4 separate regions of the Homo sapiens genome follow, and regions 2, 3 and 4 are each linked to region 1. Evidence: fine-mapped expression QTL. A gene starts in region 1. Each other region holds a variant in brackets. All regions are shown on one strand. Distances are from middle to middle. Region 1 holds the start of LEPROT (leptin receptor overlapping transcript). Region 2 overlaps DNAJC6 (DnaJ heat shock protein family (Hsp40) member C6). Region 3 overlaps LEPR (leptin receptor). Region 4 overlaps LEPR (leptin receptor).

Evidence for each region. PIP is the estimated chance that this variant, and not a neighbour inherited with it, causes the effect. A credible set is the group of variants that fine-mapping cannot tell apart.
Region 2: its variant is the best candidate, but not a certain one, in a credible set for the expression of LEPROT in monocytes (Fairfax 2014, PIP 0.88).
Region 3: its variant is the best candidate, but not a certain one, in a credible set for the expression of LEPROT in blood mononuclear cells (TOPMed, PIP 0.68).
Region 4: its variant is the best candidate, but not a certain one, in a credible set for the expression of LEPROT in subcutaneous fat (GTEx, PIP 0.77).

Annotation. Positions count from the first base shown.
Region 1 is chr1:65,416,878-65,425,117 of GRCh38, reverse strand. LEPROT (leptin receptor overlapping transcript) reads right to left here and starts at 4,450. Exons shown (of 4, transcript NM_017526.5): 1 at 4,378-4,450. The coding sequence starts at 4,393. It overlaps LEPR (leptin receptor), which reads right to left and starts at 4,450. Exons shown (of 20, transcript NM_002303.6): 1 at 4,378-4,450. RefSeq lists enhancers at 3,947-3,996, 4,070-4,603, 4,604-5,136 and silencers at 4,367-4,866, 4,887-4,956.
Region 2 is chr1:65,367,350-65,375,589 of GRCh38, reverse strand. All of the region lies in intron 4 of DNAJC6 (DnaJ heat shock protein family (Hsp40) member C6), which reads right to left. Among named protein-coding and RNA genes, the nearest start is that of LEPR, 49 kb to the left of the region's middle. The variant ACC/C (reference allele first, on the strand shown) is at 3,442.
Region 3 is chr1:65,469,262-65,477,501 of GRCh38, reverse strand. All of the region lies in intron 2 of LEPR (leptin receptor), which reads right to left. Among named protein-coding and RNA genes, the nearest start is that of LEPROT, 53 kb to the right of the region's middle. The variant C/T (reference allele first, on the strand shown) is at 3,867.
Region 4 is chr1:65,439,382-65,447,621 of GRCh38, reverse strand. All of the region lies in intron 2 of LEPR (leptin receptor), which reads right to left. Among named protein-coding and RNA genes, the nearest start is that of LEPROT, 23 kb to the right of the region's middle. RefSeq lists a silencer at 6,802-7,096. The variant T/C (reference allele first, on the strand shown) is at 3,699.

The sequences.
Region 1 (8,240 bases):
TTACACTTTAAGAATGTTAATTTTATGGTATGTGAATCATTTATCAATAAAAACATTTACTAAAATAAAAAAGAAAGAAAAAAAGGTCCCAAATTCAAGCAAATGTAGCAATTTACTCATTTTATTGAGGTTACATTTGACCCGTTACAGACTGCATTATGTGTGTCCCTTTCAAATTCACATGTTGAAACCTTCCCGGCTCCATCCCTCTCACCGTGAGATGCTATCAGGAGGTGGACCTTTGGGAGATAATTAGGTTCAGATGAGGTCATGAGGGTGGGGTCTCCACGATGGGATGAGTGCCCTTATAAGAAGAGAGAAAGTAGAGCACACACTCTCTCTGTGTTTCTCTCCCTCTGTTCTCCAATGTGAGAGCAGAAAGCAGGCCTGCAAACCAGGAAGCTGGCTCTCACCAGACACCAGATCTGACTGCACCACAATTTTGGACTTCCCAGTCTTCAGAACTGTGGAAACTAAATGTTTGTTGTTTAAGCCACCCAGTCTAAAATATATTTCTTATAGTAGCCCAAACTGATTAAGACAATGACCCATGTCTGCCACCTTGAAATCATAAAGTATACAAAGGTCTCAAGTAATTCCAGTACCTAACCCCTATCCAATGGATGAATTCCCTCTGTATTTGTCACCAGAGGGCAGCCAGTTGGTCCACATAACTCCAGTGAAGGAAAACTCACTACCTCCCAAGGCAAGTCATTTAATTCCAACAGCTTCTAAATGTTGAAAGCCCTCCTTCTTTAAATTATATCCAGAACTGCCTCCCTGTAATATATACCTTTGATCATTTTGCCTCCCCAAACCACAGTACTGCAAGTATTTGAAGATTGTTTTCATGTCTTTGTAGGAAACAATTCCCAACTAGTGTGCACTGAATAAAATATGTATTCCCTGTATCTATTGGACACTAGTCTCTGCGGGAGTAGGAACGTATTTGCCCTTGTTGTGCTGCTGAGTGAGAAACAGAGTATCAAGGTTGTTACAAAATCTTGAGCTCTGAGTCACAAACATGAGTCAAATCTTAACTCTGCCACCATCTGGTCTTATGACTTTGGGTAGAAGCTAATCCTCTGAACCTGATTTCTCACCTGTAAAATGGAAATAATGGTGCCACCTTATTGAGCTTATGGGAATTAAATGAGATAATCTATGTAAAGTGCTTGGCAAAAGGAGGTAGCCAAATAAATGCTGACTGACTCAGGTATCTACTCATTTTAGCAATGTTCTTTGATAAAGGTAGAAATCAAAAGCATAGGAGACTATCTTATCCAAATTTTCTTCTGAAAAAAGTCCATAATACTCATAATTAGTATTAAACTAATTAATTAAGCCAATGAACATTTTTGATTGCTTCCTTTTACTTGAGAGAAGATTTAGAGAGACTCTTTAATAGGAAGGTGCCAAAGTGCTTTTTAAAAAACATCTGAAAGTATACACATGTTAAGGGACAAAGAAACACTGTCAATTTTAACATATCTTTTTACATTTCCACTCTTTAATGGAAAATGCCCATGTGTGGATGGAAAGCAAATACCACATACTATTTCATTCAGATGATCTTTTCCCAGCAGGCTTTGCTCCTCTCCTCTGTGCCTGACCATCGGCAGTACCCCCTCCTCCATGAGGCCTGTCAAAGCTAGGTACTGCAGACCTCTTCCTTCTGTTCTGATACCAGTTTCTCAACGTTCACAACCATCTTTCTGTTTGATTCTTTTTGGTCTTTTTTTTCCTCTTTTTTCAGGAATCACATCCTCTGAATCTCTTAAAGTTGGAGTTGACCAAAAATCCAACCCCATCTCTCTTTTCACTCCACGCACTCCTGCTGAAAACTTATGTTCAACCCAAAGCTCCTACTACCACAAGGGCCCGGCCGCAACTGATGCTCCAGCCCAGAGTAGGTCCTAAAGAACTAGGCCTGTACTTCCACCTCCAGTCTGGACTTCTCTGCCTTGACCGCCAACAAGAACCTCAAATTCAACATGTGTAACACGTGTAAAACCAAACCACTATCCCTACACTTTAAAGGTCCTATCTTAGAGGACTGACACCATGATTGCATTCCACCTTCCAATGAATCAGTAGGTCAAGGTGACTCAATCTCCCAGACTTCTTAAACTCTCTGCTACAGCCCTGGTGCAGGCCCTTAACCTCTTATTCCTGCCTCTGTGACTCTTCCAATCCATCCTCTACACAGCAGACAGTGATCTTTCAACTATATATATCACCGCTGCCATCCCTTTGCGGTTGCTTCCACAGCCTACAAGTTGTTCTGGCACGGAGGCTCACCATCGCCTGACTCACTCCTAACTGCCTGTCCAGCCAGCTTCAACCCTCACCACTAAGTTCTGGTCTTACTAATGTAGCTTAAGTACCTGAAGAGAAGAAGGCATGTTGTTTCATAAGCCCTGCGCCATGTCACGTGCTGTCCTCCCCACTTGGGATATACTCCACCTTCACTCCATGCCTTGCCAAGGGAAGCCACATTGATCCCTTCAGATTCAGTTCAAGCATCGCCTCTTCTGTGAAAACAGTCCTTTCTCTGGAGCAGGGGAATCAATCCCACCTGCATCAGCTTCCTAGGGCTGCCGTTACAAAGTACCACAAACTGGATGGCTGAGAACAACAGAAATTTATCTTCTGACAGTTCTGGAGGCTGGACTTCTGAAATCAAGGTGTCAGCAGCGCCACCACACTCCCTCTGAAGGCTGTAGGGAAGCACCCTTCCTTGCCTCTTCCTAACACTCAGTGGTTGCCAGCATGGTTGCCAACAATCTTTGGTGCTCCTGACTTTGTAGCTGCATCACTCCAATTTCTGTCTCCGTCTTCCCATGGTATTCTCCCTGTATGTCTCTATGTCTAAATTCCCCTCTTCTTATAAGGACACCAGTCATTGGATTAGGGCCCACCTTAAACCAGTTATCATTTTAATTTGATTATATCTGCAAAGATACTACTTCCAAATAAGATCACATTCACAGGTACCAGGGAATTAGAGCTTGAACACATCTTTTTGGAGGACAAAATCCAACCCACCATCTGTTCTCCCACCGCATCTGAGCCCAACATAAACACTGACATAGTAATATAATTATTTCCAGCTCTGTCACCCACCAATAACTTCTCATTTATCTTTGTATCCTAAGTCTCTGGCATACAGTAGTTCCTCAATAAAAGTTGAACAATCTGTAAAATGCTTCCTTCCCTTAGTCCGTTTCCATTTCAGACTTCCTTTTTTTTCACTACATCACAATTTTCTAACACATTCACACATAAACGTGATCATGATTTGGTAGTTTCTGATCATGTGTAGTACTGAGACACTACTTTTCATCTGTTTTCGGCATTGGCTTCAAATGGATATATAACACAGTCGACACTCTCCAAGTAAACCATGTTTACTAAACTGATATTAAGTATAAAAGTCAGCCAGAAATAACGATAAAATGTCTGCTGCTAACAGCTCACATACTCGGATAAATTCATAGTGAACAGAGGCGTACTCGTATATATACTATCTACATGTTTATAGCAGATGTTAACTGGGGATATCTTTGGGTGCAAATTTCAAGGATGATATAAAAGCCAATATAAAAACAAGTCATGCTACTCTATTCGACAGATTAGAAATGGAATGTTTTCCTACCAAAATACAGGAAGCCTTGCAAAAAACCTTTTCCGTCTCGCATTGCTCTGAAGCCATACAGATAAGGGACGCGGTGTTTTTACCAACTGCCCCATGCAAAAAACACATACTACACACACACTGGTTTCTTCTCTGTCCATAAACAGAGAAAACACCGAAGAAAGCAGTATTAAAATTACACGTAATCTACTCTCCACGACTGCGAGAAACACCGTCTTTCTGGGTGCTTTCCATTGACACCCGCCCGCGGTCAACTCTGCCCAGTTGGAAAAATCATTAGGAAAAAGAGGATTAAGTTTCCCAATGCTAAGAACGCTGGAGACAAAGGGTCCTTTGTGGCAAATAGGAAACTGCGGAGGGGCAGAAAACCAGAAGAAAGGCGTTAGGGTGGCGTCAAGAAGTGGAAACCTTGTTTAAAAACTCAGGAGAGGTGGAGGGCGCCGCTCTCGCCGAGGGCTCAGGCTGGGGAGGGGTCTGGTGCCGCCACTGGAGAGCAGGAAGGCCAGCGGCCTTGCAAAAAGGGCCAAGGCTCCCCCGAAACGCCGCTCCACCCACACCCCAAGGGACGAAGGGAGCGGTCGATCGCCTCCCGAACCGGAGAGGCGGGAAGGGTGGTGAGGCCGTTCCCCAACGGCGCGCGGAAGGCGCAGCCCCAGGCTTGACCGGAACGGAGGTGGCAACCCCACCACACGACAAGCGAGCCGGGGACCGCGATGTACCTTTAACGCCCGCCATGTCTCCCGAACTGGGGCCGCGGCTGCTTCCGGCTTCCTGCCACGGCCCGGGCAGCCTGCCCAAGCCAGACCGGGAGTCGCCCCGCGGATCCCGAGCCCGCCCCGGCCACGCAGAGCCCCGCCCCCGCCGGTGCAGAACTCCGACCTTAGCTCGCAAACGCGGCGCCTGCTGCTCCAGACCCCGCCCCCACCACTCACAACCCCGCCCCCGCCGGTGCAGAACCCCGCCCCCAGCTCGCAGAGGCCGCGCCTGATAGTTCAGACCCGGCCTCGCTACTCAGAGCCCCGCCCCTGACAGTACAGAGCTCCTCCCCTACCTCGCGGAGGCAGCGCCTGCGGCTCCAGACCTCGCTACCGCTACTCGAAGCCCCGCCCCAGACAATGCAGAGCTCCTCCCCTAGCTCGCGGAGGCCTCCCCTGCTGGTCCCGCCCCAGCCCTCACCGGCCCAGAATTCCGCCCCCAACTCTCAGAGGCCGTCCCTGCTGGTCCCGACCCCGCCCCCGCCACCCAGAACTCCGCTCCTGCCAGTCTAGAACTCCGCCCCCAGCTCGCAGAGTCCATCTCCAGCCCTAAGGTCCCACCTGGTCCCACAGAGCTTTCCCAGAGTAACCCCAACCCAGTGCCCTGGGCCCTCCTCCTAGATCCTGAGCCCTCCAAGTAATCCTCAAGCCCGTTCAATGTGGGTTGGGACCTTGGCTCCGCCCCGACCGCGGGCCCAGAGTCTCTCCCCGGCCTCTCAGAACGCAGTGCACGCAGCGGGGGATCCTCCCTGAGCCTTCCTGAGAACGGAGATGTAGAAAGTGGGGAGAGGCAGGAGAGGGAAGGAGGGGAAAAGTTGCAATCGATGGGAGAGGGACACCGACTCACTAACCAGTGTTATGTTCCCTGAGCTCCCAAGTGCGTGCTAGTGTGCGAGTGTGTGCCTGTCTGCCTTCACATGACTGTGGCAGAGGAGAGGCGGGGTACCAGAGGACAGGCCCCTTAGGAAACACTCCTCATTAAGAACTTGATATTTGCATAGGTTTGCTTTGCTTAATAGCAACGCTTTACTGAAACTAGCGGGGTTTTTCTTTACTCCCTGGTTTATTTATAGAGACGAAGACCATATAAGCTTTTGTGTCCGAAGCTTTCATGAACCTTAAAAAAAAAAATAAAAAAAAAAAGCTATTATTTTTGTGCCTTGGGGCCTCAAAGTTTGCAGGTAACCAAGGCCAGTTTTTAGATCTCTGAGAGCCATTGTGTACTTATCTTACAGGAATGGAGAGTTCTGTTTTGGCAAAAGCAATCTAGAAGATCATTGAAACAGTCTGGTCCAAATGCTTCAACTTACATTTAAGGAAAGAGGTGCAGAAAGGATAGGACTTGCCTGTCACACAGCTCTTTGGAGGAGGTTGGATTCTGGGCCACTTCCCCTCATTCTAGCTGAGATCCACTCTACCTGATGGTGCCGTCCCTCTTCTCTTGCTTTTTCTCCGTTTTCAAAAGGACTGAAAGACAAAGGAATCTGTGGAAACCTAGCTTCCCCTGGCTACCTGAGAAGTATAAATTCTCACCACCATCATGTTTCATGATCCTTGCTCAGTTTACTTTTTCAAAATTGCACATTGAGCATGTTACTGTTTCAAGAAATGTCTATTTGTTGATTCAGTGGAGTATTTTTCTAGCTGTCAGTTTATTTTTCTAGCTCCTCTCATTTCTCCTCATAGACGGATGGCACACTCACTGAAAACAGCATTGTAATACCTGACTCACTGCTGATGCTTGGAGATCCAATACTACAGTACAGCACTTTTTACTTTGGAGCCTTCAATCTACTCAAGAGCATTGGCAGTGTATGCCACTTTGGTTTAAGGATTATTTTGAGCTGAAGGCAATTAGGAAGAAGCAAATAGGTACACGGTACTAGAAAAGCACTCTGCCCTCCCTCTATTTGCCAAAAAGCAGGATATAAGTTTACGAAGGTGTACCTCCTTCCTGCTCTACCAGGAAAGACAAAGATTAATCACCAGAGACAATTTTAGACCCCTGTCAGCCTGGAGACAACACAAGAAAAATCTACATGATAAACCTTAGTATTTGGCCTTCATCTGCAACTAGTCTCCCATATATTTGTTTTCCGACAATTTGCTGCCCCTAGAGACTCAAGATCCTTTATCTTGTCATTTCTTTAAAAATTTATTGTTCCTTGGCTAATATGCTGTATAAACCCAAGTTCTAACCAAATCTTTGAGTTGCTTATCTCTGAGTATTCCCATGTTACCTATATGAACAACGCACGTGTTGATAAACTTGCTTTACTTTTGTTCATCTGTCTTTGGCCAGTCTAATGCACAAGGACCCAGCCGGAGAACCTAAGATAGGTAGAGAAAAAGATTCTTCCTCCCCTACAAGAGCTTGTTTCCCTATCATATTATTTCTAATACCTATTAGAGCACTCAAGGGAACCTGCGTATCAGACAAGCCCTGGAAGTCTGTGGTTTTTAGCTTTCTTCGTGTAGTGCTAAGCTACTCTCATGGGGAAGATATTCTATGGGGTTAAATTTCCCTCATTCCCCCTTCCATTTCCAACCACCCATTCTGTCTCCAGAGAGCCTAAATAGGGTTTGCGGGAGCCTTCCACATCAGCCTGACTCCAGTCCCACAGAAGATAAGTGATTTTAGAGAAAACTGACAACACATCAGAAGCAGAGTTTGGTTTGAGCACCCTAGGCTCAGGAGTAAGATATTGGAAGGTGGTATGAAAGAAAAAGTTGAGGTGTTTGCCCCAGGGTAATGTCTGGAATTTAAAAAATGCTGGGACAGTGTTTGTCTTGAACAAGTTTTCTGCCCACGCCAGCTGTCCTTTCCAGGTTACCAATCACCTTAAAGAGAAAGTTAGCTATTTTGCCATAGGCTTTAACCATCTGAAAAAAATCTGCTTTTCTTTTGCCTGATGTTGCACTGAAAAAAACTGTTCTTCTACTTACTCCTTCCACATTTTCTCAAAAATAAGAGTCATCAAAAACAGAAAGTAAAACCCTAAAAACCAAATCCTTATCCCCAACTTGCCATTGATATGTTACTTGTAAGATCTGTGACCTCTGTCATGCTGCCTAGGACTACAGTGGACTTACTGGGATGAATTTTAATATTCTCTCCTTGCATTCAATAGTCTCGCATGATAAGCTAGGTTTTATTGCCTCTATCTTACAGATAGGAAAACAAGCTCCCAGTAACCAGTGAATAGGGAAGCTGAGATCAAGTCCCAAACTGTTCAGCTCTAAAGTCAGATGGTCAGCACTTGTACTATTCCCCACAGTAGATCTTATGCACCAAGAAGCAAGAATTCTTGTAGTAATTAGAAATAACAGTAACCTCTTATGCTTCACAGGGCATCAAATCCATTCACTGTCTTAATTTTCTCCAGCATATCTATTAGCATCTTGCATACAGTATACACAAAATGTTGGCTGAATTAACAAATATTAATAAGTTTACCATACACAGTATCATCTCTCCCTATCCTCAGAAAAAAAAAAATATATAGCCTCAAGCTCCAGCTCTGGGTAAATTTCTCCATGCTTTAGCTTCCTGAGGTAAGATTTACAAAAACCTGTCTCAGAATCTTTGGGGGAATTAAGTGAGAAAAAAATATATATAAAACATATATATATATATATGGTAACACCTAGGGCAGTGCACACAAGATAAATGCCAGGATGTTATATCTACACTGGGGTAGGCTTGCAAGTCAGTGCATAAGTTAAATGCAAGAATGATGCAACACTAATTGAAATCCGTAAATGTTGGTTTTCCTTCCTAATGCTCAATCACTACTTCTTTTTACATAGCTATTCCCTTTACAGAA
Region 2 (8,240 bases), 50 kb after region 1:
GCCGGGCGTGGTGGCAGGTGCCTGTAGTCCGAGTTACTCGGGAGGCTGACGCAGAAGAATGGCGTGAACCCATGAGGCGGAGCTTGCAGTGAGCCGAGATCGCACAACTGCACTCCAGCCTGGGTGACAGAGCGAGACTCCGTCTCCAAAAAAAAAAAAAAAAGTTTTACTTCATTGGTACAAGGATGGCTCAATATATGCAAATCAATAAATGTTATATACCACATGAATAGAATCAAGAACAAAAAATACGTGATTATTTCAATAGATGCTGAAAAAGTATGTGATAAAATTCAACATCCCTTTATGATAAAAATCCTCATGAGGCCAGGCTCGGCAGCTCACGCCTATAATCCCAGCACTTTGGGAGGCTGAGACAGGCAGATGACTTGAGGTCATGAGTTTGAGACCAGCCATGGCCAACATGGTGAAACCCCGTCTCTACCAAAAATACAAAAATTAACCGGGCATAGTGGTAGGTGCCTGTAATCCCAGCTACTTGGGAGGCTGAGGCAGGAGAACTGCTTGAATCCAGGAGGCGGAGGTTGCAGTGAGTCAAGATCACTGCACTCCAGCCTGGGTGACAGCAAAACTCCGTCTCAAAAAAAAAAAAATCCTCAGAAAATAGATACAGAAGGAACATACCTCAAAATAATAATGGCCATCTATGACAAATCCATGGCTAACATCGTACTGAATGGAGGAAAATTGAAGGCCTTTCCTCTAAAGAATGGAACACAACAACGATACCCACTTTCGCCACTATTATTCAACATAATACTGGAAGTCCTGGCCAGAGCAATTAGGCAAAAAAAGAAATAAAGGACATCTAAATTGGAAAGGAAGAAGTCAAATTACCCTTGTTCGAACTCAACATGATCTTATGGCTAGAAAAACCTAAACACTCCACCAAAAAAACTGTTAGAACTGACAAACGAATTCAGTAAAGTTGCAGAATACAAAACCAACATGCATAAATCAACAGCATTCATATTTACTAACAGCCAACAATCTGAAAAAGAAATCAAGGAACCAATGCCATTTCCAATAGCTACAAAAAATATAAAATACCTGGGAATCAATCTAACCAAAGAAGTGAAAGATCTACACAAGAAGAACTGTAAAACTCTGATGAAAGAAATAGAAGAGGACACAAAAAAAGGAAAGGTATTCCATGCTCATGGATTAGAAGAAATAATATTGTTAAAATGGCAATACTACCCAAAGCAATGTACAGATTCAATGCAATCTCTATCAAAATGCCAATGACATTCTTCACAGAAATAAAAAAAAACCCCTAAAATGTATGTGGAACCACAAAAGACTCCAAATAGCCAAAGCCACCCTGAGCAAAAAGAACAAAGTTAGAGGCATCACATCATCTGACTTCAAAGTTTTTTACAAAGCTACCGTAACCAAAACAGCATGGTACTGGCATAAAAACAGGCACATGGACTAATGGAACAAAATAGAGAACCCAGATATAAGTCCACGCATTTACCACCAATTCATCTTTGACAAAGATTCTAAGAACTTACAGTGGGAGAGGACAGTCTTTTCCATAGATGGTGCTGGGAAAAGTGGGTAACTATATGCAGAAAAATGAAAATAGACCTATATCTCTAACTATATATAAAAATCAAATAAAATTGATTAAAAACTTGAATCCAAAACCCAAAAATATAAAATGACTAGAAGAAAACATTAGAGAAATGTTCCAGGACATTGATCTGGACAAAAATTTCTTGTGGAAGACCTCAAAAGCACACACAACCAAAGCAAAAATACACAATTGGGACTATATGAAGCTAAACAGCTTCTGCAAAGCAAAGCAAACAATCAACGAAGTGAAGAGACAACCCACTGAATGGCAGGAAATACTTGTGAACTATTCATTTGACAAGAAATTAATAACCAGAATATATAAGGAGCTCAAACAACTCAACAATAAAAAAAAAAAACAAATTAAAAACTGGGCAAAAGAGTTGAAGAGAATTAACAGATCTTCCAAAGAAGACATAGAAATGGCATACAGTTATATGAAAAAATGTCCAACATCACTAATCAGAGAAATGCAAATCAAAATCACAATATAGTGTCATCTCACTTCAGTTAAAATAGTTTGTATCAAAAAGGCAGGTAATACCAGATGCTGGTGAAAATGTGAGAAAAGGGAACTCTTATACAATGTAGGTGGGAAGGTAAATTAGTACAATCACCATAGAGGACAGTATGAAGGTTCCATATGACCCAGCAATTCCACTACTGGGTATATATCCAAAAGAAAGGAAATCAATATATCGAATATAAAGCTGCACTCCCATGTTTATTGCAGCACTATTCACAATAGCCAAAATATGGAATCAACCTAAGTGCCTACCAATGGATGAATGAATAAATAAAATGTGGTATACATATACAATGAAATATTATTCACATAAAAAAGAATGAAATCCTGTCATTTGCAGCAACATGGATGGAACTGGAGGCCATTATAACTGAAATAACCCAAGCATAGAAAGATAAATATTGCATGTTTTTTACTCATATGCAGAAACTAAAAATGTGGATCTCATGAAGATAAAGAGTAGATTAGTAGTTACCAGAGGCCAGGAAGAGGAGTGGGAGAGGGTTTGAAGGAGGAAAAAATAATATAAATGTAATTAAACTGTACACTTAAAATGGTAAAAATGGTACATTATATATGCATATTTTAACTCAAATTTTTAAAAAAGAAAAAAATGTTCAAGTGTTCTCTTGGCTCTGACTGTTTCTCTAATACTCACAGACAGAAACGCTTAGTCATCTTTATACTCATGCCCCAGTTTATTTTCATCTATTACAGCTTTTTTCAGTAGAACAACATGGTTAAATCCACAGGCTGGATTTTCACTCTGGATTTACCATTTACTACTTGATTAACCTTAGGCAATTTACTAACCTCTCCAGGCCTCAATTATCTAGTGTGTAAAGTATAAATGAGCATTACAAGATTGTTGTCAGAATTAAGTAGCACAACATAAACACAGTAAATGCTAGCTTGCGGTCAAGCTGTACTGAATAAACTGCTTATACCTGTCTCCCCTTGTAGACACCAAGCTCCATGAGAAGAGAGACCATAACTTACTCATTTTTGTAACCCCAGTGTCCACTGTGCATGTGTTGCTCATATGGTAGGTGCTCAGCAGGTATTTGCTGAGTGAATGAATGAGTGAAAGAATAAAGGAATGAACCCCATTTGGCAATCTATTTTTATAATAAGATTTGTCCACATGTACCATATCTTGAGGAGGGAACAGGTGAACCCATTTTATTGGGTTTTTTTTAGACTGTAACAGAATGAAAGTATAGAAAATTTATTTCCCCAGCAATATTTTTGAAGGTTTTAAAAACTGGCTATGACACACACACACACACACACACACACACACACACACACAC[ACC/C]CCAAATGTCAATATCTGTAATGAGTCTCAGCTAAAAGTTGGCTAAATTATTCTTAGCACAATAGGCTAATAGCTCCAGAATCATTAACTCAATCAAGTAAATAATATTAATTTAAAGTACTCCATAATTATATATTTACTTGATATATAATTATACACCATTAAGTAAACATACAATTAGAATTTTTTAAAAGCATGTGCTCTGTCTAAAAGGGGAAAACACTAAGGCATAAACAAAACCAACAAAATAAAAAAGGAATTCAATCACTGCAAGCTATTTTTGTAGCTCTCTGGGGTTCACAGCTTCATGCAGTAGCTGACACTTCGCAATGCTGTCGCCAGTTTTCCTGAACACCTTGAACATCTCCTGGGCTTGCTTAGCATCAGAGGACACCATACAGATTACAGCACTGCCATGATACCACCCAGTGGGAAAAAGAAGCCAAATCATCGCTAGAGCTGGATGCCATTCAATTTTCATCTCTCCATCATCCCTTGCCCAAGACAGGATGGGCAGAAGCAGCCATTCACTAAGCATAGGAATGAATGCTTCTACAGAGAGTATGACTTAATTGCTACATCTAGTGTTTTATGAATCACACACCATTTTTGGAGGATGGGGATAATTCAGTCAATCACTTATTGTAGCATTTTATTATTACCAATGTTAATCATAGCTACTACTTACTGCATGATGACTCTAAGCAAGAGACTGCTATCAAATTTATTCCTTACAACAAACCTATAAAAAAAATTCTAAGAGTGCTTGTGAGATAGGCACTCTCTTATTGGCATATCCATTTTACACAGGAGAAAAACGAGTCCAAGGAGAGGTAAAAGTGACTTGCCCAGGAAGAAGAACAGCTGAGATGTGAACCTAGGGTAATTTTTAAAGTCTAAAGTTTGTATACACTATATGGCTTCATCTCAGTTTAAAAAAATAAAATTTGTGCACTCTCCATTATACTACATTGTCTGATGACTGATAACAATAACTCCACCTTGCATTTGTAGAGTGGTTACAGCTTCAAGTGATGGCTGTATTTTACCAGGGTTAAGACATTCAATTCATGGAAGGCTTCATAACTAGAATGTGGGAGTCTCTGGTCCTCTGGCCCCCAGGCCAGGGATTGTTTTTTTCACTCCAGTTATTTCTTGTCCTGACACTGAGGCATGGTAGCAGAGTGAGAGATGAAATATGAGCTATAAACTTCTCCCACTCCAGCCAATCTCCCACCAACCTCCCACCAATGCAGAAACAACTGGGAGCTGTAGCGACCTCTTTGGTGTGCTCAGGAAGAAAAAGGGGTAAAAACATTGACCTTCAATCATGAGTCCTTTAAGACACCCAAGTTGATAATACATTTTCCAAAAATCAAATTGTTCCCAAAGGGAAAGAAATCCTAGAAGATTATGTCATTTAGAAATAGTTAAGAGGGTAGAGCCTAAAACAACCAGCTGGGCTGCAGATTTCTTTGCTGCTAGAAGGACTCTGTCACCATACTGTCCTTCCTGGGTAAACAGTGGAAGAAGGAGAGACAAAGTGGCCCTAGAATAGCATTAATCAGAACTTAAGAACTCTGGAATCAGGTTAGACTTAGTGTACATTCATCCAGCTTTCCATTTATTGCCAACAGTAATGCCAAGAAATGTGTAAAGGTTCCTGATATTCTGGGGCACAGCTATAAACCTTCTATGCAGAAACCAAACCAGTGTATACACGCATACACACACATATGCATGGAGTGGATGGGAACAGTGTTTATGTTGGGGATGATGAGAAAGGTTTAAGTATAGATAGCGGTGTTGGTTATGCAACATTGGGAATATAATTAATGCCACTGAAATTTTATGCTACAAATGGTTACAATAAGTTTATGTTATGTATATTTTACCACAATAATTTTTTTAAAGGAGCAGAAACAGATGGTTAAGCTCTCTGAAGCCTAGCAATAGATCTACATACACAGAGGAGTCATTATGAACATCTGGTTTAACTGATGCATCTTGTTGGTCTCCAGGACTTCATTGTCAGCATCAGTACTCTTATTTCCTCAAGGTGGATATTGGCTATAAAGAGTCAAAAAACATTAAAAAAAAATAAAAACACCTGAGGTTTCATACATCCTTTGCAGTCCTGAATAGGTATTCCAGTACTTCGCTTTTGAATGCTGGGCTATGTGCTATGCATTGTTTTGAGTTGTAGCCTCTGCTAAACTGAGACTAAACAAAGTCCTATTTTAACATTCTGTGACATATGCAAATACATAATAGAAAAATCAGGAAAACAGTATTGATCATTTCATACAATTCCTGTCAACCAATGTGGCTTCTAAGCATAAAAGTGAATCGAAATACAGAATGACAACCCTCAGCAAAGTAAAATCTTCCTGGAAACAGCCTGTCTTTGCCAACATCACTACCTACATCCTCAAATGCAGGTTTGAACATATACAAACAATCACATAATCATCATGTAAAATGACTGAATTCAGGTTTCAAGGCACAGAGGTATATGATGTGGGCAGATCCAGACTCCCACGAGTTTATAAATAAAAAATTCCTAAGACCTTATACACCCTTATGAATCTACAAATAAAACCAGTTCCATGTTTAGTATTTATGGTAGACTCTACCATCAACATTTATTAAAATAAGGTTTAATTTCAGACGTAGCACTCCACAGAACCGGAAGGAGTAAGAAATGGTTCTAGTCCTCATGAACTGAAAGGTAAAAACAAAGAAAACTTTTCTAAGTCATGCAACAATGAGATGCAAATCCATTCACAGTGTTAGTGCTGGGGAAAGAAAGGTCTAGGAGTTTGAAAAGAGATGTAGGCAAATCAAAAACAAAGGTAAGATGGAAATACTACGGCTTTGGGACTGCCTCCCTAAGATGCAACTAAGGGTAAAGGAGACAGGTCAGAGGATCCACTTGCATTCTGCCAAATTCTAGGACTATCTGGAAGAGCTAAAGATGTAGTGCAATCCTGTGTTTTAGGAGAGAGAATTGGAAAAGCCTCGTGGCATGTGGAAATCTTCTCCTTAGCAAAATTAGGCAAATAAAGAAGAAGATGGGCTGGGGGTGGTGGCTCACACCTATAATCCCAGCACTTTGGGAGGCTGAGGCAGGTGGATCACTTAAGGCCAGGAGTTCAAGACCAGCCTGGCCAAGATGGCAAAATCGTCTCTACTAAATATACAAAAATTAGCTGGGCATAGTGGCACACATCTGTAATCCCAGCTACTTGGGTGACTGAGGTACAAGAATCAGAACCCAGGAGGCGAAGGTTGCAGTGAGCCAAGATCATGCCACTGTACTCCAGCCTGGGCAACTGAGTGAGGCTCTTTTGGAAGGGAAGGGAAGGGAAGGGGAGGGGAGGGAAGAGAAGGGAGGGGAGGGGAGGGGGAAGAAGAAGAAGAAGAAGAGGAAGAAGAAGGAGGAGGAAGAGGAGGAGGAAGGGAGGAAGGGAGAGAGGAAGGAAGGAGGAAGGGAGAAGAAGAATGAGGAGGAGGAGAAGGAGAAGAAGGAGAAGGAGGAGAAGAAGAAGAAGAAGAAGAGGAGGAAGAAGAGGAAAGAAGGAAGGAAGGAAGGAGAAGGGAAGGAGAAGGGAAGGAAAACGGAAGGAGAAAGGAAAGAGAAGGGAAGAAGGAAGGAAGGAAGGAGACGAAGGGTGTGTGACATGGGTAGCTTTTAAGGGAGAAGGAGTAGCTCATGCAAGAAGATTGTGTGTGTCTGTGTGCACATGAGCACATGCCTATCCCTATTGGAGCATATGATTTTTGGGCAATGAAGAATGGTAAAAGATGAAGTTAGAGGAGCAGATAGAGGCTAGATCATCAAGAGCCTCACAAGATATTTTATGATTTGTATAGGCAAGAAATGACTCCACTCCTCTGACCTATATAAGCCTTTCTCCTGCTCTAAGGTCCAGCTGTCACTGGTGTCTCCCTTTACTAATCTCCCTTGGCAGGTATTATAAATATTATTTGTACTTATCTTTAGAACGTCCTGGGTTCTCTCGCCAACTAGGCTTAGGTGTCTTGAGAACAAAAACCAAATATTTATTTTATATCTATAGTGTTTAACAATTCTTTCCACATTCATGCTTTTTTATTTTTATTTTTTATTTTTGGGGAGGGATAGCATTAGGAGATATACCTAATGCTAAATGACGAGTTAATGGGTGCAGCACATTCATGCTTTTTAAAAACATTGATTATCTATGTCAGGAACTGTTGTTCTAGGTATCCAAAAAAAAAAAAAAAAAAATGCTCCCTCCTCTTCTAGGGCAAGTAAGAGCAGCCCAGGGTAGGTGTTTAATATGTAATCTCTGATTCCTTTGGTAAACCCTTAAGTCCAGTCACAAAATCTTTAGTTACACTGATAGATGCCTTTCATTAAAAACATCTTTATAGAGATTGCCTTTTATAAACATTATACAAAGAGACATCTTTATATGTATAAATGCTTCTATAATGATATCATATCTTTATTTACTTTCAGAGGGAAAATGCTCCAGATTATCACAGATCTTTCAAGGTCAAATAAAATTTCTATGAAATATTGTGTAGGATGTTCCACAGTCCTTAAATTATGAAAATAATGGCACTGACTTAGCCTCCAGTCAAGAAAAATAATTCAAAAGATTTGCCTTACATTAAGAACAAAATATCTATCCACATTTTTGTTTGATGTTAATTCACTTGTTCTGAATTAGCTAATAGATGGAATAAGAGTTGGAAGGTTATTTTATTACAGAAGATTTTAAAGAGATGCATTTAAAATCTTCATTA
Region 3 (8,240 bases), 52 kb before region 1:
CCTTACCCTTCGTGTAGAAGTGGAAATAGTACAGCATTTCTGAAGGGCACTTTGACAGTTGTATTCATTCAGGTATCCATCATTGGACAAAGAGATACTAAGCTACCTCTCCATGCCAGGCACTCTGTTAACGACTGTAGATACTGAAGTGAGCAAAGTAGACAAAAATCTCTGCCCTTATGGAGCTGACATTCTAGTATGTATGTGGAAGTGGGGCCACGGGGAGGTGGGGAGATAAGTTACTCTGAGGAAGCAAAGTAAATTAAAAAGTAATTAATAAATAGAAGGTAAGAAATTCTTTGGAGAAAACTTAAGCAGTAATGAGGACAGGGAATGGAGGTGGGTAAGGAAAGATCTCACTGATAAGGTGATACCTATCCTAAAATTATGTCTAAAAGATTATAGCTACAAAAAAAGAAGAAAAACTGAATGGAAACACATAAAGTGCAATTTGTGGTTATCTTTAGAAGATATTTGCGGCAATTTTCTGTACTGTGTTCTGCATATGTGTGCTTGTGTGTTTTTAATTAGTTGGAAATTTTGACAATGTACTCTGGCATCTTTATTTCTTAAAAGACCCCACCAAGCAATTCTGAGGCACAGTAAAATATAAAATTGTTTTCTTCGCACCTTACATTTTAAGTTCTATGCTCAAAAAGATTCTAGTAGTTCTGGGCATGCTGAGTTCAACATTTTAAGTTATACGTATTTTTTAATTGCCCTGCAATTCCCCTCAATTGGGTTACTGAAGAATTATATGTAAATATCTCATAGTGCATTGTGAGAAATGAGTTATGTAATCCATGTAAAGAGGTTAGCATCAGGCTCAATAAATGTTTAGCTGCCATCAGTGTTATTATTGTTAGAGGCTTAGTGGAGAACTTGCTGTTTGATCTGGACCTTGAAAAAGAAATGGGTAAAGGATGTGGATAAAGGTCAGAGGGTGGATTATCCAGGCAGGAAAAATACATTGGCAAAAACATGAGGAATGACCTCATTGTGAGCAAAGGGAAGTCTCCCTTTCATTCAGTAGACCTTTACTGAGCTATTGGACCACAAGCTCCGGGAGTTCTGAGGCTATGTCCACCCCGTTCACTGCTTTATCCCAGCACTTAGTACAGCACGTTACACAAAAAGAGCTGTAAATATTTGTTGACTGTTCAAAGTATTTTAACCACCACTAAAAGCATGTTCATTTTAGATGTGTCCTCAGGCAGCTTCTGTGACATCAGTTGTCATTTTAATAAAGAGCTAACCAGAGCCACTCTAAGAAAATGAGTTCACCAAGATATATTCAAGCTACAATAAAATGTAATAATTTTTGGATTTGTATGCAATAACAACTCATTCATCTAGTATGGTTAGGAAATTAGTAACTTATTTATAATGGAAACATCCCTTTAATGCTAAAGGTTTTCAATTCTATTTTAACCAAGTTGGATGGAAATATTTTTAATTTGGGGGGTTTTTTGTTTTGTTTGTTTTAACACAGGGTCTCGTTCTGTCACCCAGGCTGGAGTGCAGTGGCGTGATCATGGCTCACTGCAGACTCAACCTCCTGGGCTCAGGCAATCCTCCCACCTCAAGCCTCCCGAGCAGCAGGGATTACAGGCACACACCACCATGCCCAGCTAAATGTTTGTATTTTTGTACAGATGGGGTTTCACTATGTTGTCTAAGCTGGTTTCGTAATGGTGGGCTCAAGTGATCCTCCTGCCTCTGCCTCCCAAAGTGCTGGGATTACAGGTGTTAGCCACCATGCCTGGCCTATTTTTAATTTTTATTACAAATATCTGTGGCTTTTTGAACACTGCATATAGAACAAAATTGATCCCTTTAATGAATCTGTGTCAGTTATGAAACACAAGCTGTGAGCAGCCAAAGACCACCTTTGACTAACATATTTTATTAGAATGTTTTAAAGTAGTCTTCCAAATTAAAAGAAAATTGGACAACCAGTCTTGAAAAGGTCAGGGACCATGCAGCTCCAGGGTTCTACGTGGAAGGGAAGAATTCAGGATACCACCATAAGGATGAGCCAGCCCAGTAGCTTTGTGTTGGCTCTGCTCAACATCCAAATTCCTGCAAAAAGGTGACTGACTTGTCTTGGACCATAAGCTCAGCCTTGTTCAGGAGATGGGAAAGCTCCTTACATGATGGTTCCTTTGGAACAGAATACAAATTGGGAAGGGTAATTTTCTGAAGAAAAATCATAGTGCTGCCTCCAGAGGAGAGCAGAATGAATGCTGAGCATGTGAAAACACGGAAGTCCAACACAATAATGAATAATCATTTTGAACATCAATTATAGTATTAACTTGTAATTCAGTAATGTTCTTGAAAACTGATGTTTAAGGCTATCTTTCCCCTTTAATTAGTGGTCTCAGGCTTCTTTACTTTTTGAGTTTCTAATTTTTATAATTCTCTTGTCTTTTTTTTTTTCACCTTTCAAAATGATTATTTTCTTGCTACTTTTTTTTTTTTTTTTTTTTTTTGAGATGGAGTCTCGCACTGTCGCCCAGACTGGAGTACAATGGTGCGATCTCGGCTCAGTTCAACCTCCACCTCCCAGGTTCAAGCAATTCTCCTGCCTCAGCCTCCCAAGTAGCTGGGATTACAGGTGCACGCCACTACGCCTGTCTAATTTTTTGTATTTTTAATAGAGACAGGGTTTCACTATGTTGGTCAGGCTGGTCTCAAACTCCTGACCTCGTGATCTGCCCGCCTCGGCCTCCCAAAGTGCTGGGATTACAGGCATGAGCCACCGCACCTGGCCTTTTCTTGCTACTTTCAATTTACCCACTTTGGGCAGTCTCCATCCACTTTCTTCCTCTATTTGGCTGTGGACTGGGAAATGAAATAAACAAGCTTGTTAGATGTGTGTATGTAATGGGACTGTGAATAAGTATGAGTCTATGAGTAAAGCACATGATAAATGCATAGACTTGGTGTCATTTACATTGACTGCTCAAAGACTTCTCTTGCTAATGTTTAGTTGTTTAGCTACTTAGATAGTGACCAGATGAGGAATTTCTCTGTAAATGATATGCTACCAATTATAAGAACACATGTCCTTTTTATAATTGCTTTAAATTCATTTTCACCATATCATTGAAAGGAAGGAGAGGGCAAATATTTGCTCAGTTTTAAAAGTATGAAAAATGGAGCCACAGAGGGCTTAAGTACACTGGGGAAAGGCTAGTGCTGAGCCCCAGGTGTCCTGGTTTCCATTTTAGAAGTTAGTTAATAGATTCAGCTATGTCAATATCAGGAGATGTACAGAATCATAGGTCAAAGACAGCTTAAAACTTCAGAGATCACTAGGGGATACAACAAGTGTATGATATAGACAGAAAAGCACAGGGAAAATTACATATGTGACTGTAAAACACACATACGAAGCTGTTAACAGCACCCACAGATGGGAACAAACATTGATTTCCCTGTTCAATCACTTTTAGCAACAACTTGGATAAAGATACTGAAAATATGTTTAACAATTGCAGGTGACACAAAATTGAAAAAGATTACCAGTATATTTAATGAGAGAACCAAGATCCTGGCTGAAACTACTGGCTAAAATGTAATATTGATTAGACAACATGAATTTTTCAATTTCTTATAATTATAGCTAACATTCTAATTTACAAACATGATGTAGGGGAAGTCTTACTTGACAACAATCATACGGGTTTTGGTTTGCTGCAAATAAAGAAATAATAATACCATTTATTGAAGATAGTGCCAGCATCATACTAAGTGCTTTATATGTACTATGTCAAGTCTCACAATTCTAAAACATAGGCATCATCATCATCCCCACATTGTAAGTGAGAAACTGATAATTTGAGAAGTTAGATAAAATG[C/T]CCCGAATCTGACAGCTAATGAATGTTGAAACCAGGTGTCAAATCTACCTAAATCCATGTCTTAACCAATATGCTGCTGTTATTATGTAAAAATAAATGCCATTATTAAAAGATTCAAGGAAGTCTCTTTGTACTACTCATTTTAATTGAAGTATGTGATTGTCATTTTCTAGGGGTCAATAACTTTTGTATTGATTTATATTTTTATAGAGATACTGTCATAGCATATTCTGAAAGCATTGGAAGGCATGCCATATGAGAAATCAATGAGAAAACAGAAGAGTCTAAAAGGTGCCTTCACATATAGAAATTTGAAACAGGAATTATGCATGGTGTCAAGAAATTGGCCTAGGCATTGGATTTAGCCAGACTAGATCCTTCTCTCTTAGCTGTGTGACCTTGTGCCAGTTCCCTCACCTGTAAAATGTGCAGGATGATCCCTGCCTGCCACTAATGTTGCAAGTGTTACAAACAATGCATATGAAGCTCCTTGGCACAGACCCTGGCACAGGGCAAGCCGTCAAGAGTATTATCACTGCTTTTTGTGGAAGCTAAAGAACAATGGACTTTACCTCAGTATTAGGAAGAATGGCACCTGTCAGAAAGATAATTGGCTGCCTTGTGAGGCAGTAAACTTCCATCCCTGGGGGCATTTAGCCAGCATTTATGTATGTATCTTAGAGGAATACTGCACTGCATTAGATGAGTTTTTGAATTAGATGCTATCTGAGGTCCCTTTTAAAGATGAGATTCTGTATAAGAACAGATGTGCTTTGCTTCATCTACAAAAATGTACTAACCAACCAGCAGTGGGACATCCTCATCTTATCCATTCCCCATTGAGCAAAGCGCACATCCTTTCCAGAAGCCGGACAAGGTAGAGAACTCTTTGCAACCCCAGGTTGGTGCACACTCTTCATGTAGTTAAGCAGCTCTGAAGAGAAAGTGGCTTTGGCATCAATTACACTCTTTTAAAAAAGAAATATATGTGTGTGTGTGTGTGTGTGTGTGTGTGTGTGTCTATATATATACACTCATTTAATTATTTATTCTGAGAGCATTGATATTTCATCAAACATCAAATAGCAATGCTGTGTGCTATGCACACAGGTCAATCATCTACTTCATTCACCATTTACCTATGGCTATAAGTAAAAAGTATATTATATATATATTATATATATACACACGTGTGTGTGTGTGTGTGTGTGTGTGTGTGTGTGTTTTAGCCACAGCTAAATGACCCAGAGGAATAAGGTTAGTTGGATTGGGAAGAAATGGAAGGGGAAAGACTGCAAGTTAATTTCTCCATCCACTCCACCCGTTTTCCCAAATGACAGCCCTGTTTATGAATTACACCATCTGGTCTGAGTTGCCTCATTTTACTACCTCACTCTAGCATGACATTAGTGAATTGATTTTATGCCTTATGCTTTTTTAAAAAAAACGGATGTTTGGTAATACCTTCTAGATACATGATGTTTTGAAGACCTCAGTTGCTCTTTGCTTTATCTTTTGAACCAAATTTCATAGTATTTATTCACAAAGGCCAAAAAAAATTTTACTACGTTACTAAAGTTTGGAAATTCTTCTGAGGTGATGAAAAGAGTAATTACAAACTGACTTTAAGCCTTGGGGAAGTGTTTTGGGCATTTTGTTTACAGGCCAGAGAGATGAAATCTACCTCTTTGAAGTCTTCCTCTTGACACATTTCTGGCCAGACTAAAGTAAAGTAATGAGATTTTCTAATATCACGGGATGTTATGTTTCTATTTTGAACTTTGGAAAATTTTTACCATTTGAAATTTATTAAAGTCAAATTATTCTGTATTCCACATGTTACTCCTGCCTGTAAATCACTTCCCCTAGCTCATGACCAGACTATTTTCTACTCATCCTTCAGATCTTTGCCAGAAGAGTTCATTACTTCATAGAGCCTTCCCTGACTACACTATAGAACTTTGCTTGCAAGTAGATCCTTCTTGAAAACATGATTCTCTGTTTGTCCATCAAAGATTTGGTCAAAGGTCTTTTGGAAAAACAGGTCAACCAGGTCATTTTTTGACTGGCCACATGGGCAAAAGCATTCATGTACAAAGGTCATGAGCAACACAAACATTGTAGAGGCACAAGACCTGCCAAAGTTTCATTACTACATTCCCTAACGCTTTCTGGGACTATAATGTTATCAAGATAATGTTTTGGGAAAGTACAAATTATCTCAACATGTGGGTGTATTTAACCAATAGCAGTCGTTTCCAATCAGTTTGTCTTAAAGATTTGCCTTTTGTTTTTTCCATGCCCTGACCCCACAACCCCTTATCATAAATGTATGAGGGCAGGGACAAAGTCCACAGTGCTCCTCATCTTACTCCTACTGTCCAGCACAGAGAAGGCATTCAATAAGCAATCAGTCAGTAAATGAGTGGATCCTACCTTAAGTCTGGTTCTCCTTGCATGCAGACAAATTAGGAGTGATCAAACCAAGAATACATAAAAACTTTTATATCAGCAAGGGAAGTTTGATTATCACATAAGTAACTGTTTAAGCCAGCATTACTTGGTTACCAGTCATCAGGAGTATTGTCTTTCTTTACTGCCACATACAAGAACACTTCTGGAGCTCTTCCAGGGAAACTGCCTTCAGAAGCTGTTTTTTGAACCACGTGAAGAAGACTGTCTCATTAATTTTTACTCTTACCCACTTTACTGCTCCCAAATGACTATCAATCATCCACTTCACTCACCACACTTAACTTCAGATAATTCCTTATATGTTTTTAGAATTACCTAGTTATTACAAAATATTTTGCACATTTTTGAAATAAGGTTAGGACTTTCCCCTACACTGATGAACTTGGATAAAGAAAGCACTCATTTGGATATCGAGAAAGTTTGTTATTTAACTTGTTGCATAAAGTTTAATTCCTGTTACATATAGATAAAAGAGTTTTCATTATAAATCTTAATGGTAAAGTCATAAGCAATGTTGGGTAATCAGTGGTACATCATCCCACTAAAATCAGAAATTTCCCTCTGTTTGCTTATTTAGGAAGGGGAGCAAGGGTTTGGGAAGGGCCCCACTAGGGATTTACATTATTCATTCACAACTATATCAAGTTTGCCAATAGTTTCTACTAATTAATAAGTGTTTTCTCACATAATGAAAATGAGATTAGAGCTACTCACCAGGCAGAACTAGAACCAATGTTAAGTTACAAAATATCAACTTCAACATTGTTAGGAAAGACCAGCCAAAGATTACCGAAATCCTATTTAAAATACGTAGCTGCCAATTTCCTGGCCTCTGATTTTTGTGCTTTCACCGTGAGGGGCTTACCATAAATCCTAGAAATGATACTTGATCTCCTTGGTGATGGTGGTGAGGTAGGAGTAGTTATTTCAGCCCCTCTTGGGCTATTAAAATGTCAACATTGGCACAATAAGTGTTTAAAATAGAATGCTATTGTTTAGGGAGGAATGTGGTCAGCTAGTGGCCCAGTGGAATTTGAGAGTTTCAAATGAAAATAATGAACTAGAATTTAGGGGAAAGGATGTCTAAGGGAGGATAAGGAAAGCAAGCCAGGCAGAGAGGGAAACATTTCCCCCCAGAATAAAGCCTTTTCATTTTGTTGGCTGTATGCCACGCTTTAGAAGGCTTCCCGGCTGACTCTGACCTAATCTCACATCAAATATCAATGCTGTGTGCTGTGCGCACAGGTCAGGCCTGGCTTTCTCCATTTTAGCAGTTCTGGATCAGTGCAATAATCCTTGGAGGGTCAAGAGGCACTGAGAAAGAAATGAGAATGAGGATGAATACGGCACGCACTTATTGGTGTTAAAGCTCAGTGTCCACAGCAGTTGACTGGGCCCAGATAGGCCAGCCTAGCCCAGCTGGAAAGTGTATGTATAATCAAATAACTGCACACAGGCATATGCATACACACTGTTTTGCTAAGTGTTAGGAATGGCCACTCTCACCTTAACCCAATCATTCTAACTAGACTCAGTGCATTAATTGACTCTACCTTGCTCTTTGTGGCTGGAAAGTTCTGGTGTAAATGTCAAATTTCTCATTCTATCTCCTGATTTCTGCCCTGTACTCCTTCAAGAGAACCCGAGTATTTAGTCATCTGTTGCCAACAGTATATATTCCAAATACTCAGGCCCATCCTTATCTGGCTCCAGCCTAACTTTCTAGCCTGATAACTACTTCTGCTCTTCATGATTCTTTACTCAAATCATCCAGTCTCCAAAACACACCCTGTGATGTTCTAGTTCTGGACCTTTGCTTGTGCTCTTAGCTCTTTGTTCTCCACATTGTCCTCAACTTTCAAGTACAAGCTCAGTTATTTACTCTCACAGAATGATCTC
Region 4 (8,240 bases), 23 kb before region 1:
GGCCAAAGTTACAAGTGAGCCAAGATTGCACCATTGCACTCCAGCCTGGGTGAGAGGGTGAGACCCTGTATCAAAAAAAAAAAAAAAGAAAAGAAAAATCACAATACCATTTATACCAGCACCCCCAAAACCAAACTACTTCGGTATAAATCCAACAAATTATGTACAAGATCTATATGAGGAAAACTATAGAACTCTAATGAAAGAAATCAAATAGAAACTAAATAAATGGAGAGACAGTCCCTGTTCATGAATAGGAAGACTCAACAGATGGTGCTGGAATAATTGGATTTCAATATACAAGGAAGGAAGGAAAGGAAGGAGGGAGGGCCTTGATTGATCACTCATACCCTTTACAAAAAATTAACTCAAATGTATTACAGACCTAAATCTAAAATTTTAAACTATAAAACTTTGAAGAAAACATAGGAGAAAATCATCACGACATTAGGCAAAGATTTCTAAGAAGATGCCAAAACTATGATCCATCCAAGAAAAAAAAAAGATGATAAATTTAATCCTAGCACTTTGGGAGGCTGAGGCAGGTGGATCACATGAGCCCAGGAGTTTGAGACCAGCCTGGGCAACATGGCGAAATCCTGTCTCTACACACAATACAAAAATTAGCCAGGCATGGTGGTGGGCACCTGTAGTCCCAGCTACTCAGGAGGCTGAGGTGAGAGGATCACCTGAGCCCTGAAGGTTGAGGCTGCAGTGAGCCATGATTGTGCCACTGCACTCCAGCCTGAGTGACAGAGTGAGACCCTGTCTCAAAAAAGATAAATTAGATTTTATCAAAAATTTAAACTTCTGCTCTTCCAAAGATGCTAAGGATTTGAAAAGACTCCCACATCATCTAGCAGTTAGGAAAAAGAAAAAAGAAAAAGAAAATTAAAAGACCAGCCATGCACTGGATAAATATTTGCAAATGAGATATACAATAAAGCCTTGAGTTCAGAATATATAAAGATCTTTCAAAACTCAGTATTAAGAAATCACACAACTCAATAAAGAAATGGACCAATAATTTCTATAGACATTTTACTGAAGATAGAAAGATTATAAATAAGTACATTAAAAGATTCTTAACATCATTAGTCAGAAGGGACCTCGCTGATAAAACAGGTTGCAGTAAAGAAGCTGGCCAAAACCCACCCAAACCCACATGGCAATGAAAGTGACCTCTGTTCGATATCATTGCTCATTATACACTAATTATAATGTATTAGCATACCAAAAGACACTCCCACTAGCGCCATGACAGTTTACAGATGCCATGGCAATGTCATTACCCTATATGGTCTAAAAAAGGGTAGGAACTATTAGAATGGCTAAAATTTAACAACTGACAATTCTATTTACTGATGAGCATGCAGAACTAGGACTCTCATACATTGTTGGTTGGAATGCAAAATTGTACAGCCACTTTGGAAAACAAAATCCCAGTTTAGTACAAAGTTAAAAACAGACTTACCATTCAACTCAGAAATCCAGCTCCTACATATTTACCCAAGTGAAAAGACTCATTGGTATATCAGATAAAAATACAGTCAGCACCTCAACTAATAATATCTCTGGTCATTACGCAATCTCATTTGACTTAGTGGTATCTCACAAAATAGGATGACAATACTTTTCTTAGTTGGAAAACAATTTTATCCTAAAAAAGATTTAAAATTAAGCATAGAAATATTGAAAAGAACCCCATAATATTAATGGTTTTGTGTTAAATCTGCATATTTGATTACTTTATGTCCTTAAAATGTTAAGAGAGTTTCACCTGTTCCTGTTAGCAGGTTAATTTACAACATGTAATTGAGAATTGATTAAGTCTTCTATATTAGTTGAAATTTCTTAAGTTCACTTGCAGAAATGGCATGTGTAGAAAAAAAACAAAACTCTAAGTTCAGTGTGTGTTACAAGTTAGAGATTCTTACTTAAAATTGCTAATACATTGAAAGATTTGCTGTTTAAAAAAAAAAAACTCTATTCAGTTAAAGTAATCACCAAAAGCTCCACAGAAAAACAAGTATTGGCTGATCCTGGTAGTGAGTTTCGCACAGATCCACTCATTATCTTCACGTTATAAAGACTTTAAGAAGGAAGATAAAATTACAGCCAGCACCCAGTGATGTCTTACACCATAGTGGATACGTGAACAAGATGTGTCATTTGGGGTTCGAAGGACAGAAGGAAGAATGATACTTACCAGCAACTTTGCCCCACATGCAGTATATTAACCTCTCTAAGCAAGTGACATTCCTTTTACCAAAAAACAAACTAACAAACCTACCTTAATTCATAGTTGACCTTTATTTATTTATTATTGACTTTGTCCAAATATACATTGAACACAGCCAGGAGCAGCATTTACAATCTGTGCAGCTTGGCAAAGGGCTTTTTGACTTGTGCTGCCCGTAAGAAGAATTAATTTAAACTCAGTTTTCAGCCATAGATAAGGTAAACTGTACCTTGGATGTACCCAAGATGGTACCAATTTACACCTATTGTCCCAACATAATGGATAACACCTACTTCTGCTCTCAAAAGTGTCCCAATTAGGATGGCAATCCATAGCCTACACATCTAGCTTGCAGCCCATTTAGATTGGCATCTGTAGAGTACAAAGTCGCTGCCCTTGAAGTCAAAAAACTTGGGTCTGAGTAACAGTCAGGTTATTTGTCATCTAAGGCAAGCCCCTTAACCTTGAAGAGCCTCGAGATTTTCCAGTGATGCTGCTGCTTTTTCATTGTTATATGGACCTAATTGACACAGTTTTGTAAACTCTTAATGACTATATGAGCACACATTATTACAACAATAAAGCAAGAGGATGTTAGCAAAAGTAAAAATTGTAATAACATAAAGAATTCAAAATATTTAATAATTTTTAACTCAGTGCCACTTTTCTCATTTAAATAAAGTTATTCATCCCTTCCTCCTTTCCTCTCCTTTGTTTTCTTCTCTTCGATATTTTTTGAGTCCCTACTACTTTGCTGTAGGAGCAAAGGGATTTCCCTCCCCACCCCACCCCCCGCCCGCCTCCACCCTTCTGAAAGTTTGTTAATCTGAGTCTATAAAAGAAACTGACAATAGCCAGATTCATGGGAGACAAAGTATACACATTTATCACATGCACATGTGCACAGGAGCCACACAAACTACGAGACTCGAAGAATCAAAGAAGGGCCAGATAGTTGAAGCTTCAATAGCATTTTAAGCTACAGAAAGAAATAGGGTCCTAAAGGCTCCTGCAGGGAGGTAGCAACACATTATGAGAGGGTGTGGGGAGGAAAGGCATGGTGAGCAAAGGCTGTCTTGTGATGCAGATGAAGTCTCTCTGGGAGCAGCCCTCAGAAGGAAGAGATGCAGCAAAAGTTTCACTGTCCAAACTTTAAAAGTATCAGGTCTTAACACCGCATATTCTCACTCATAGGTGGGAATTGAACAATGAGATCACATGGACACAGGAAGGGGAATATCACACTCTGGGGACTGTGGTGGGGTCGGGGGAGGGGGGAGGGATAGCATTGGGAGATATACCTAATGCTAGATGACACATTAGTGGGTGCAGCGCACCAGCATGGCACATGTATACATATGTAACTAACCTGCACAATGTGCACATGTACCCTAAAACTTAGAGTATAAAAAAAAAAAAAAAAAAAAAGTATCAGGTCTTTAGTCTCCTTTTCTTA[T/C]TGAGTTCCTTTTTCCTGATCCAGATAGGTGGACCTCAGAGAAAGCCTCTGTGTCTGTTCTTTACCTCACCAATGCAGATTTCCTCTACAGATGCAAATCTACCCCCAAAAGAACAGCTTTTCAGAACTATTCCTGTCTGCTACTTCTCTGAATAACCAACTGAAAATACGCCAAAGAAGTATATTTTGAGGTGACATATTTTGGTTTCCCACAGTGTCAGGCACTATTCTAGGTACTATATGAAGAAAGGATTCCAAAAGAAGACCGAGATGTGGCTCTGTCCAATATGAACTCATCCAATCATTTTTCCAGTATTCATTGAATGCTTAATACTTTATCCCTTAGTATTTAAATATAGTATATCTTTTTATATATTTAGAGCTTATATACCCAGCAAAAAATTTTTGAAATTTTTCTCCAAGTATTGCACATCTTTATAACATCAGATATAGATGTGTATATATAAAATTATATATATATATTATAATCATTTATGTAATTGTTCCTATTGAAAATTTGGAAAATTGCATTTTCAGAGACAGGGTCTTGCTATGTTGCTCAGGCAGGTCTCGAACTCCTGGGCTCAAGTGATCCTCCCACCTCAGCCTCCCAAAATGCTGGGATTATTGGCTTAAGCCACTGTGCCCAGTGCATTTTCTAATTAGTTAGTACTGGTGTTTAGGAAAGCAATTGATTTTTTTGATACTGATCTTTTATCTAGTAAGTTTTATAAGTGTAATTTTTTTCTAATAGTGTATAGATTCTCCTGGATTTTCTAAGTAAATAAGAGCATAGAATGCAAATAATAATCTGTTTATTCCTTTTCAGTCTTTCTGCCACTTACATATCTAGCACAATGTTGAAAAGTGGTAAGAGTTGGCATATCAGCCAATTGCCAGAATCAGACTGTTGCTATTAATTTTTGCATGTCTATTACTGCCTTGTAATATGAGGTCCTCAAGATAGGGGCTGGTACTTCTTCCCTCTAGGTCAGTGATTCAGGATCCTCAGGCTCCTGAGTATGGTCTCTGTGTGCAGTCTCCCTTGTATAGTAACCCTCCATAATGTGTGCTGAACTGAGTCAAATGTCACATCTGTGCCGATTTTCTAAGCTTCTGCAGGCACTGTTATTTGATCTTTGTATTCCCAGGTTGGTTTTGTTTTTGGAGGCAGGGAAGGCATTGCTTTATTTTTATTGAGGTATATCATATTTTATTGAGTGTATATATTGTAAGTATAAAACCAAATAAACTTGCACAAACTTAAAACTGCTGTGTAATCATCATTAGATCAAGAAACAAATATTCCAGCTGTTGATGAAAAGAGTCAGACTCTGTAAAATATTTAAAGAGGTTTATTCTGAGTCAAATATAAATGACCAAGGCCCAAGGTACAGTCTCAAGAGATCCTGAGAACATGTGCCCAAGGTGGTTGGGTTATAGCTTGGTTTTTATACATTTAGGGAGACAAAAGATATTAATCAATACATGTGGGATATATACTAGTTTAGTTGGAAAAGGCAGGACAAACTCAAATCAGTGGGGTGGAGTAGGGGAGGGGTCATAGGTCATAGGTGGATTCAAAGATTTTCTGATTGACAGTTGGTTGAAAGAATTAAGTTATTGTCTAAAGACCTGGAATCAATAGAAAGTCTGGTCAAGATAAGGAGTTGTGAAACCAGGGATCCTATGCAGATGAAGCCTCATAAGGCACCAACCTTTTGGGAATCACCTTTTCATTTTATTTTATTTTTTTAAAAAGGGCTTAAGTCTCATATAGCAGAGTCCTCCCAACAAATATTTCTGAGGCATTTGGGGTAACTTATTCTCCTACTCACCTCTTGGTCCATTTTACTCTGAATGCTTTCTTTACCCTGTGTCTCACGCCTCTTTGCTGTCCTCTTCTCTCTCAGCCCACATTAACCCCACTTGCAAACCATTCTCCTTTTCTTCACTCTCCTACCCCTCAGTATACCTGAACACCACAGTGAACAACAGTATGTATCACAGGCTTTGAGTGGGAATCTGGGGCAAAGGAGGGAGAAGCAATGGGAAAAGGGGAGAGGGTTTCACCACTGCTCTGCCAATATCCTTGTTATCAAAAATTCTTAGGCTGTCACCCCAGAGGGTCTCCCTGGCACTGTTTTAGCCTCAGGCTCCAGCCCTTCAGTGGCCAGGATTTCTGTCACCTTTTCCCTGGATTTCTTCTCCACTGGTGTTAGTGTATCACCCCTCCCCCACTTCCCCTTCGTCATTCTGATGCAAATCCCAAATTCTCCTCACTTTATTATCTAAAACATTTCAAATCCCTTCCCTGTCGTGGGCCATAGCTCTTAACACTCAAATGGCTTATCTAAGATTAAATAAACAAAAAAGTTTTCTTCTCGGAATTGTGCTACCAGCCATTAAAATGATAACTTTCCCCCTGCTCCACTATATGAATTAAAGGAATACAGTCCAAAGGCTAGGACTTAGAAACCACTTTCCTTTTATTGATAGCTTAAACCTAAGGAAGTGTGAGTCCTGAAAGCAAATATGCCTAAATGGCACCAAAGTCAGCTCCTAGGGTCACCACCTGTATGTTTCAGGACTCTCTCCCTTGTCCCCCATCACTCTCCCCACCCCTTCTGCTAAATCAGATGTTAACATCCTCATCTGCAGGCCCCAGGGACAGACACTCAAGTGGTTATTGCTAAGGATGTGGCACACCAAGCTCAATGCTATTAGGACATAGTTTCAGCTATTTGGGGTTTACACAGCATTCTTTGCCAACTTCATTGAAAACATGTTTTCATGAGAATTCATCTCATTCTACCTACTGCTGGCTAAATTTATCTCCACAGAGTTTAACAACATGGAATGATTAATTAGGGACCAAGCTATTTCCTGAGTGCTTTGCACATAACTGTGATTCTGTGACTCTGTGATTCACTCTCGTTGCTTCAGCCATCTGTCCCTGAACAAAATGCATTTATTTATGTTTTCTGTGATTTGTTGTTCTCCTCTTTCAAAGACATAAACATGATTGATTTGGAAAAGCAAAATTGTTTTTTCCTCTCTTTATAAAATAGTTTTAATTAAAACACAGCTAGAGCAATCCGAATAAAACATAATCAGGCCACTCCTGCTCATATCTCTAGTGGCGTCTCATCTCTAAATGAATGCCGACGCCTTACAATGACCTGCTGGGCCCCATAGGATCCATCCACCCCTACACACACATTATCTTATCTCCCTCCACTCTCCCTGAAGGCTTCATGCCAGCTCACAGGTACGCTCCAGCTCAGGGCCGCTGCACTTGCTTATCCCTCTTTTTGAACCATCTTGCCCATTGCCGCCTCCATAACTGCCTCTACTTCCTTCAAACGTCATCTTCTAGGTAAGCCTTTCTTGGGCACTGTATCTTAAACAGAAGCCACCGTCACCCGTTCACGCCCACACGCACACTCACACATATTCTACATCCCTTTCTTCCTTTTTTTGCCTTAGCATTTCCACTAACATACCATCCATTTGACTTATTTGTGAAGTTTATTTTTTGCTTCCCTACCAAAAAAAAAAAAAGTAAGCACCATGGGGGCTGGGGGTTTTGTCTGTTTTATTTACTGTTCTATCTCCAGCACCTAGAATAATATAATTATGTTGAGCACATAATAGGTGCTCAACAAATATTTCTTGAAAGAATAAGTGAAAGAGTAGACCTAAAATTAAAAAGAATCGAAAGAGTAGACCTAAAAATAGGTCCCATCGTGTTGATTCCTTCTCATTATTCAATAGCTCTATTCAGCCACCAATCGTCTCTATCCACCCTATTTAAATAGCACCACTGTAAGTCATTCTCTATGCCTTTATCCTGATTTATTTCTTCATAGCATTCACTACTGTCAATTTTCTTTTTCTTTTTTTTTTTTTTTTTTTTTTTTGAGACAGAATCTCTCTTCCTCGCCCAGGCTGGAGTGCAGTGGTGCGATCTTGGCTCACTGCAACCTCCGCCTCCGGGTTCAAGTTAGTCTCCTGCCTCAGCCTCCTGAGTAGCTAGGAGCTGGGATTACAGGCACACGCCACTGCGCCCAGCTTTTTTTTTTTTTTTTTTTTGAGATGGAGTTTCACTCTTGTTGCCCAGGCTGGAGTGCAATGGCATGATCTCGGCTCACTGCAACCTCTGCCTTCAAGTGATTCCTGGGTTCAAGTGATTCTCCTGCCTCAGCCTCCTGAGTAGCTGGGATTACAGGCATCTGCCACCACACCCAGCTAATTTTTTGTATTTTTAGTAGAGACAGGGTTTCACCAGGTTGGCCAGGCTGGTCTTGAACTCCTGACCTCAGATGATCCACCTGCCTCAGCCTTCCAAAGTGCTGGGATTACAGGCATGAGCCATTGCACCCAGCCCAAATTTCACTATTGAATTATTTTTTACTTTAAAAATTATTTGTCTTGCCCATTTGAAGGTAAGCTCCATGAGGGCAAATAATTTGTCCTGTATCTCCTCAGCTTAAAATGTTTTTATTTTTTCCTTAACATCAAAAATCATTTGACCATATA